Regions from separate parts of the Homo sapiens genome. Here region 1 is linked to region 2. The links come from fine-mapping of genetic effects on gene expression. A gene starts in region 2. The other region holds a variant in brackets. All regions are shown on one strand. Distances are from middle to middle.

Evidence for each region. PIP is the estimated chance that this variant, and not a neighbour inherited with it, causes the effect.
Region 1: its variant is fine-mapped to the expression of ZNF500 in whole blood (TOPMed, PIP above 0.99).

Annotation. Positions count from the first base shown.
Region 1 is chr16:4,726,806-4,729,817 of GRCh38, reverse strand. ANKS3 (ankyrin repeat and sterile alpha motif domain containing 3) reads left to right here. Exons shown (of 18, transcript NM_133450.4): 4 at 2,641-2,839. Among named protein-coding and RNA genes, the nearest start is that of ANKS3, 6.0 kb to the left of the region's middle. The variant G/T (reference allele first, on the strand shown) is at 1,726.
Region 2 is chr16:4,765,835-4,768,585 of GRCh38, reverse strand. ZNF500 (zinc finger protein 500) reads left to right here and starts at 1,424. Exons shown (of 6, transcript NM_021646.4): 1 at 1,424-1,569; 2 at 2,510-2,751. The coding sequence starts at 2,608. RefSeq lists an enhancer at 106-185 and a silencer at 1,378-1,677.

The DNA of each region.
Region 1 (3,012 bases), 39 kb after region 2:
TGACAAAGAGGCCGTTTTTATTCCTAGGAAGAAAAAGAGGGAGTAAACTTTGATCAGAAGCTTATAAACAGTCATTCTTTAACCAGACTAATTTTATTCACTAATTGCAGAAATGCCCAAACAAACAAGCAAAATAAAAATAAAGACAGAAAGTGATGGCCTGGTGCGGTGGCTCACACTTGTAATTCCAGCACTTTGGGAGGCTGAGATGGGCGGGTCACTTGAGGTCAGGAGTTTGAGACCATTCTGGATAACATGATGAAACCCCATCTCTACTAAAAATATAAAAGTTAGCTGGGTGTGGTGGCATGTACCTGTAATCCCAGCTACTCAGGAGGCTGAGGCAGGAGAATCGCTTGAACCCGGGAGGTGGAGGTTACAGTGAGCTGAGATTGCGCCACTGCACTCTAGCCTGGGCAACAGAGTGAGACTCTGTCTCAAAAACAAAAAAAAGAAAAAAGAAAGTGATCCCTGGCCTTCTTTTCCCGGAGGGTTCATTCGATCCCTGTGATCCCTGTTCCCCTCTAGCTTCTGCCATGGAGGAGGAGAGAGGCTGGGCTTTCAGTGCCTCTGGGGAATGACCTCCCGACGTCACTGCCCACCTGCCCTTTGCTAATCTGTGTACAATAGTTAGAGACAATATAAAGCCCCTGGCAGGGTCCATGGCTGCGTCTTGCCCATAGTAGGATGTGATCATCTTGTTTTTGGAAAAGGGTCGTCTCCTCACTTCCACCCCCTTATGTTCCACACACAGCCTAACTCTGTCTCCTGGTTCTCATTTGATATTGTGGTGCAGCGACCTCTCTTCCTCTCTCTGCGTGCCTCTTCCAGTTCCCAGTGAGCCAAAGCAAAGCATTGCTGAAGCCCCAGGTCTCCGGTTCCCAAGTTGTGGCCCTCACTTAGACATACCCAGCCCATGGAGTGCTGGTGCACCTTGGTACAGGGTGGTCTGTTGCGCTCCCTCCACAGGAGGCTCTAGGCATAGGCAGCTGGGTATGCAGTCAGTACGGCCCCTCAAAGGGTCACGTTTGGAATTCTCAGGCTCTTAAGTCTTTGGGTGTCCTGTTAAGATGCAGAGTCCATAACCGCTCCATAGAGGAGCAGGGGGAGGCGTTTGTGTTGTGATGGGATTTTGACACTAGCTGAGGTGGAGGCTTGCTGATAGTAAGCACAGGATGGGGCCTGAGGGGAGCTGGGGGCATCAGAAGGAAGGGGTGGGGCTGAACGAGGAGTGGTAAGAGAGCCCCAGGGAGATGCTCTGCTGTTGTGTAAAGGAAGATAGTGTTAGGACGAGCTGGGTGCATTCGAGCCCTGCTGCAGAGGCATCTCCATGCAGCCCCCCTGGCCAGGGGCTGCCACTGAACCCTGGTATCAGGACCTTCTGGAATGGCTGCCCAGGTGTGCATCCCAGAGTCACTGAGGGCTGCCAGGCAATGGAAGGTAGTTGCCTGCTGTGGTCTAATATGTGAATCCCGGCTGGGCGCGGTGGCTCACGCCTGTAATCCAGCACTTTGGGAGGCTAAGGCGGGTGGATCACGAGGTCAGGAGATCGAGACCATCCTGGCTAACACGGTGAAACCCCATCTCTACTAAAAATACAAAAAACTAGCTGGGCGTAGTGGCGGGCGCCTGTAGTCCCAGCTACTTGGGAGGCTGAGGCAGGAGAATGGCGTGAACTTGGGAGGCGGAGCTTGCAGTGAGCCGAGATCGCGCCACTGCACTCCA[G/T]CCTGGGCGACAGAGCGAGACTCTGTCTCAAAAAAACAACAAAAAAGTGAATCCCGTAAAAGGGACAGATCCTGGGGTTCAGTCACCAGTTGTTATCCCCTCTGCAGGCAAGAACTGGGGAAGGGAAAGAAGGCCTGTGGGCGTTAACCATGTAGGATCCCAGGTAACCATGCAAGTGGGTATTATTTTAAATGTGACTCCCTTGTCCCAACCCCAGAGTCGCAGCTAGGAAGCCCACAGTTTTTTCCCATGGGAAAATGCATTGCCAGAATTTTAACAGCAATCAGTGAGAAAGATGGGATTCTTTGGTCACAGATTTTTCAAGAATGTTTCTTTAAGGTGAGGTGACAAAGGATGAATCAGTGGCGGTGGGACTTGTCCACGGTGGAGTCCCTTCTTTCCTCACTGCTCCTCTCCACCCAGCAGTGGGCTAGTAGATGCCAGGCCTGTGGTGGTCAGGGTTTTTCAACTGTGGCTGTGTTGACAATCCAGGCTGGATCATTCTTTGCTGTGGGGGCTGTCCTGGACACTGTGGGATGTTTAGCGGCAGCCTTGGCCTCCAGCAGCCCTTCCCTGCCCAGTTGTGAGAACCAAAAATGCCTTCACACATTGCCACATATTCCCTGGTTGAGTGCCATCTGCCTATCTGGTGGTGTGAAAGAGCATAGCTGGCCTTGGGCTAGGAGGATGCGAAATCAGAGCAAGGAGACGAAGGCTCAGGGCCTCACAAGGCAGTGTACGAGCAACTGTCAGCATTTTTCTGCCTGCCTGCCTCCAATCCCCACAACGTCCAGGGTGGCAGATAACTTCTGCTTCCTGTCAACTCATCCCGCCTGGCCTAGCCTCGCCACCAGCTTTGGTGAACCCCACATGCGAGGCGGCTGGCCATGTCTAGCATATCTTGCGTTTGTTTAGGAGAGAGTTAGATTTGAATAAGAAGAATGGTGGTGGCTGGACCCCGCTGATGTATGCCTCCTACATTGGCCACGACACAATCGTGCACCTGCTGCTTGAGGCGGGGGTGAGTGTGAATGTGCCGACCCCAGAAGGGCAGACTCCACTGATGCTGGCCTCCAGCTGTGGCAACGAGAGCATCGCCTACTTTCTTCTCCAGGTGAGCTACGAGGGAACTCAGGCCCAGAAACCTGAGGGGCTCCGTGGCCACCCTGACAGAGATGCGAACCACTGCAGGCCACGGTGTTCGTGTGTGCTCGTGTAATCACTTCTGATTCTTGCAGCATGGCCGCCTGGAGGGCGCCCGCCCCACGCAGAGGAGATGAGGCCGTA
Region 2 (2,751 bases):
CCAGCATAGGAGACGGGCCTTAGGATGCCCAAGTTAGGATTAGGGGCAAACTACGTTAACCTGGTAGTTAGGAGCTGAAGTTCTGGAATCAAAGATTTGGGTTCCAATCCCATTTCTGTACTTCCTGTTTGACCTTCTCTGGGGGGTTCAATACTTAAAACTCTCAGAGCTTCAGGGTTTTGTTTTGTTTTGTTGAACCGGTAGGTCTAGTTATAGTACCTCTATTACTAAATGAGGAAGAAACGAAGTACAAATGTGTTTTGCTTGCTTGATGCTCAAGAATTGATGCGACCGGGAGCGGTGGCTTACTCCTGTAATCTCAGCACTTTGGGAGGCTGACGTGGGTGGATTGCTTGAGGCCGTTGGAGACCAGCCTGGGCAACATGGGGAAACCCCATCTCTACTAAAAATACAAAAATTAGCCGGACCTGGTGGTTCGTGCCTGTAATCCCAACTATTCGGGAGGTTAGGTAGGAGAATTGCTTAAAACCGGGCGGCGGAGGTTGCTGTGAGCCAAGGTCGAGCCACTGCACTCTAGCCTGGGCGACAGAGTGAGACCCTGTCTCTAAATAAATAAATACATACATACAAGAATTGATACCTGGCTGGGCACACCTGTAATCCTGACACTTTGGGAAGCTGAGGCGGGAAGATTGCTTGGGCCCAGGAGTTTGAGACCAGCCTAGGCACCATGGTGGGACTTCATCTCTAACAACAACAACAAAGATTGATGCCCATTATTATGTTGTCAGAAAGAAGCAGGCAGGACAAGGGATATTTGGGGTTGGACGTTGTTGGGGGCCCTCTTGGGGGAGGGTGGGCGCAAGCACTTGGCATCTCTTCCAGTTTTATCTTGAACAACTTCTGCCTTTATTTATTTTATTTATTTATTATTTATTTATTTATTTTTTGAGATGGAGTTTCGCTCTTGTTGCCCAGGCTGGAGGACAATGGCAGGATGTCGGCTCACTGCAACCTGCGCCTTAGCCTCCTGAGTAGCTAGGATTACAGGCATGAACCACCACGCCCAGGTTTCTCCACGTTAGTCAGGCTGGTCTCGAACTCCCGACCTCAGGTGATCCGCCCGCGTCGGCCTCCCAAAGTGCTAGGATTACAGGTGTGAGCCACCGTGCCCGGACGACTTTGCTGGCTTTAAAGATGGAGGAGGCGGCCAGAGGAGAGCGGAGCGGGTGTGGAACAGTGACTGGGAAAGTAGCCCAGAGGCTGCAGAGTCGCCGCACGCTCGCGCGGTCACCGAGGTGCTGGACTACGTTACCCACAATGCGTGCCTTTGAGGACCACATTAACCACAGTGCACGTCGCGGACCCGCCCACTCGGCCGTGTTGCCACGCCCCCAACGGCCGGCTTAGCCAATGGTGCCACGGCTACGTTACCCACAATGCCGCCTGCGGGCCCACCCGCACGGCCTGGTTTGCACCCCTGGTTTAGGGTCTTCGGCCCCGGCTCTGGCGTCCCTGGCTGCCAAGCCTGAGGCCCGCAGTCCTACTCCCGCCGAGACCCGCCGCTCCGGTCCTGCCCCGAACTGCCCACGGCCGGCAGCGCTTCCAGTGAGTGCGGGGGGCGCGGGGACGCGGGTCCCGGCCGAAGCTTCGATTTCGCGGCCCGCGCCAGCACCCGGGTCTGTGCCGCGGCCTCGGGTACCGCTCACCCTCCACCTGAGGGATGAGACGGGAAAGCAGCCCGGCCTGGGGGTCCCAGCTCTCCCAGGACCCTGGAATTGGGGGGCTGTCGTGACCACCCACGCGGGGGTGCCTGACGGGGCCGCGTAGGGGCTTCAGGGTTCGCCAGACCTGGACACCGGGGATCAAGTTGAGGCAGAGTCTGCAGAAAGGCCCTACTTTTCATCAGATTTCCAAAGGAACCCCTTCCATATAGGACCCACTCTAATCATGGAAAATAACGATTCTCGAGCTCTGACCGCAAACATCCCTTTTAGATTGTTTTTGTTTGAGTCTCTCTCTGTCGCCCAGGCTGGAGTGCAGTGGCGCTATCTCAGTTCACTGCAACCTCCATCTCCCGGGTTCAAGCGATTCTCCTGTCTCAGCCTCCCGAGTTGCTGGGATTACAGATGTGCTACCACCATGTCGGGCTAATTTTTGTATTTTTTGTAGAGACAGGGTTCCACCACGTTGACCAGGTGGTCAACTCCTGAACTCACGTGATCTGCCCTCCTCTGCCTCCCAAAGTGCGGGGATTACAGGCGTCAGCTACTGCCCCCAGCCATCCCTTTTAGTTCTGTCAGCAACCTGTGTGTGTAGGTCCTGTTATCATCTCTGTTTGCCCAGTGAGGAAGCAAAGCCCAGAGCCCTTCAGTAAATTACCCGGGAATTAACAGGGGGTTAATAACAAAGATGACATTCATCCACTTCCTTTTCCTTTTCCATGGTGGGGTGAGCTGGCCTTGGAACCAGGGCAGGGGCTTCCCAGGCCAAAGGGCTTATCCAGCCCCAGGGCTGCCCTTCAGATGGTTTTATCGTCTCTCCACAGGGCCCTGAAAAAAACTCTCTTCCTGTGTCTGGCCAGAGGTATAGAGAGAGACAGGTTCAACTCTAAGGCCTGAAAAGGAACAAGGCCCACCGGAAGCAATGGCCACTGTCCCTGGCCTCCAGCCCCTGCCAACCTTGGAGCAGGACCTGGAACAGGAAGAGATCCTGATTGTGAAGGTGGAGGAGGACTTCTGCTTGGAAGAGGAGCCCTCCGTGGAGACGGAGGACCCCAGCCCTGAGACT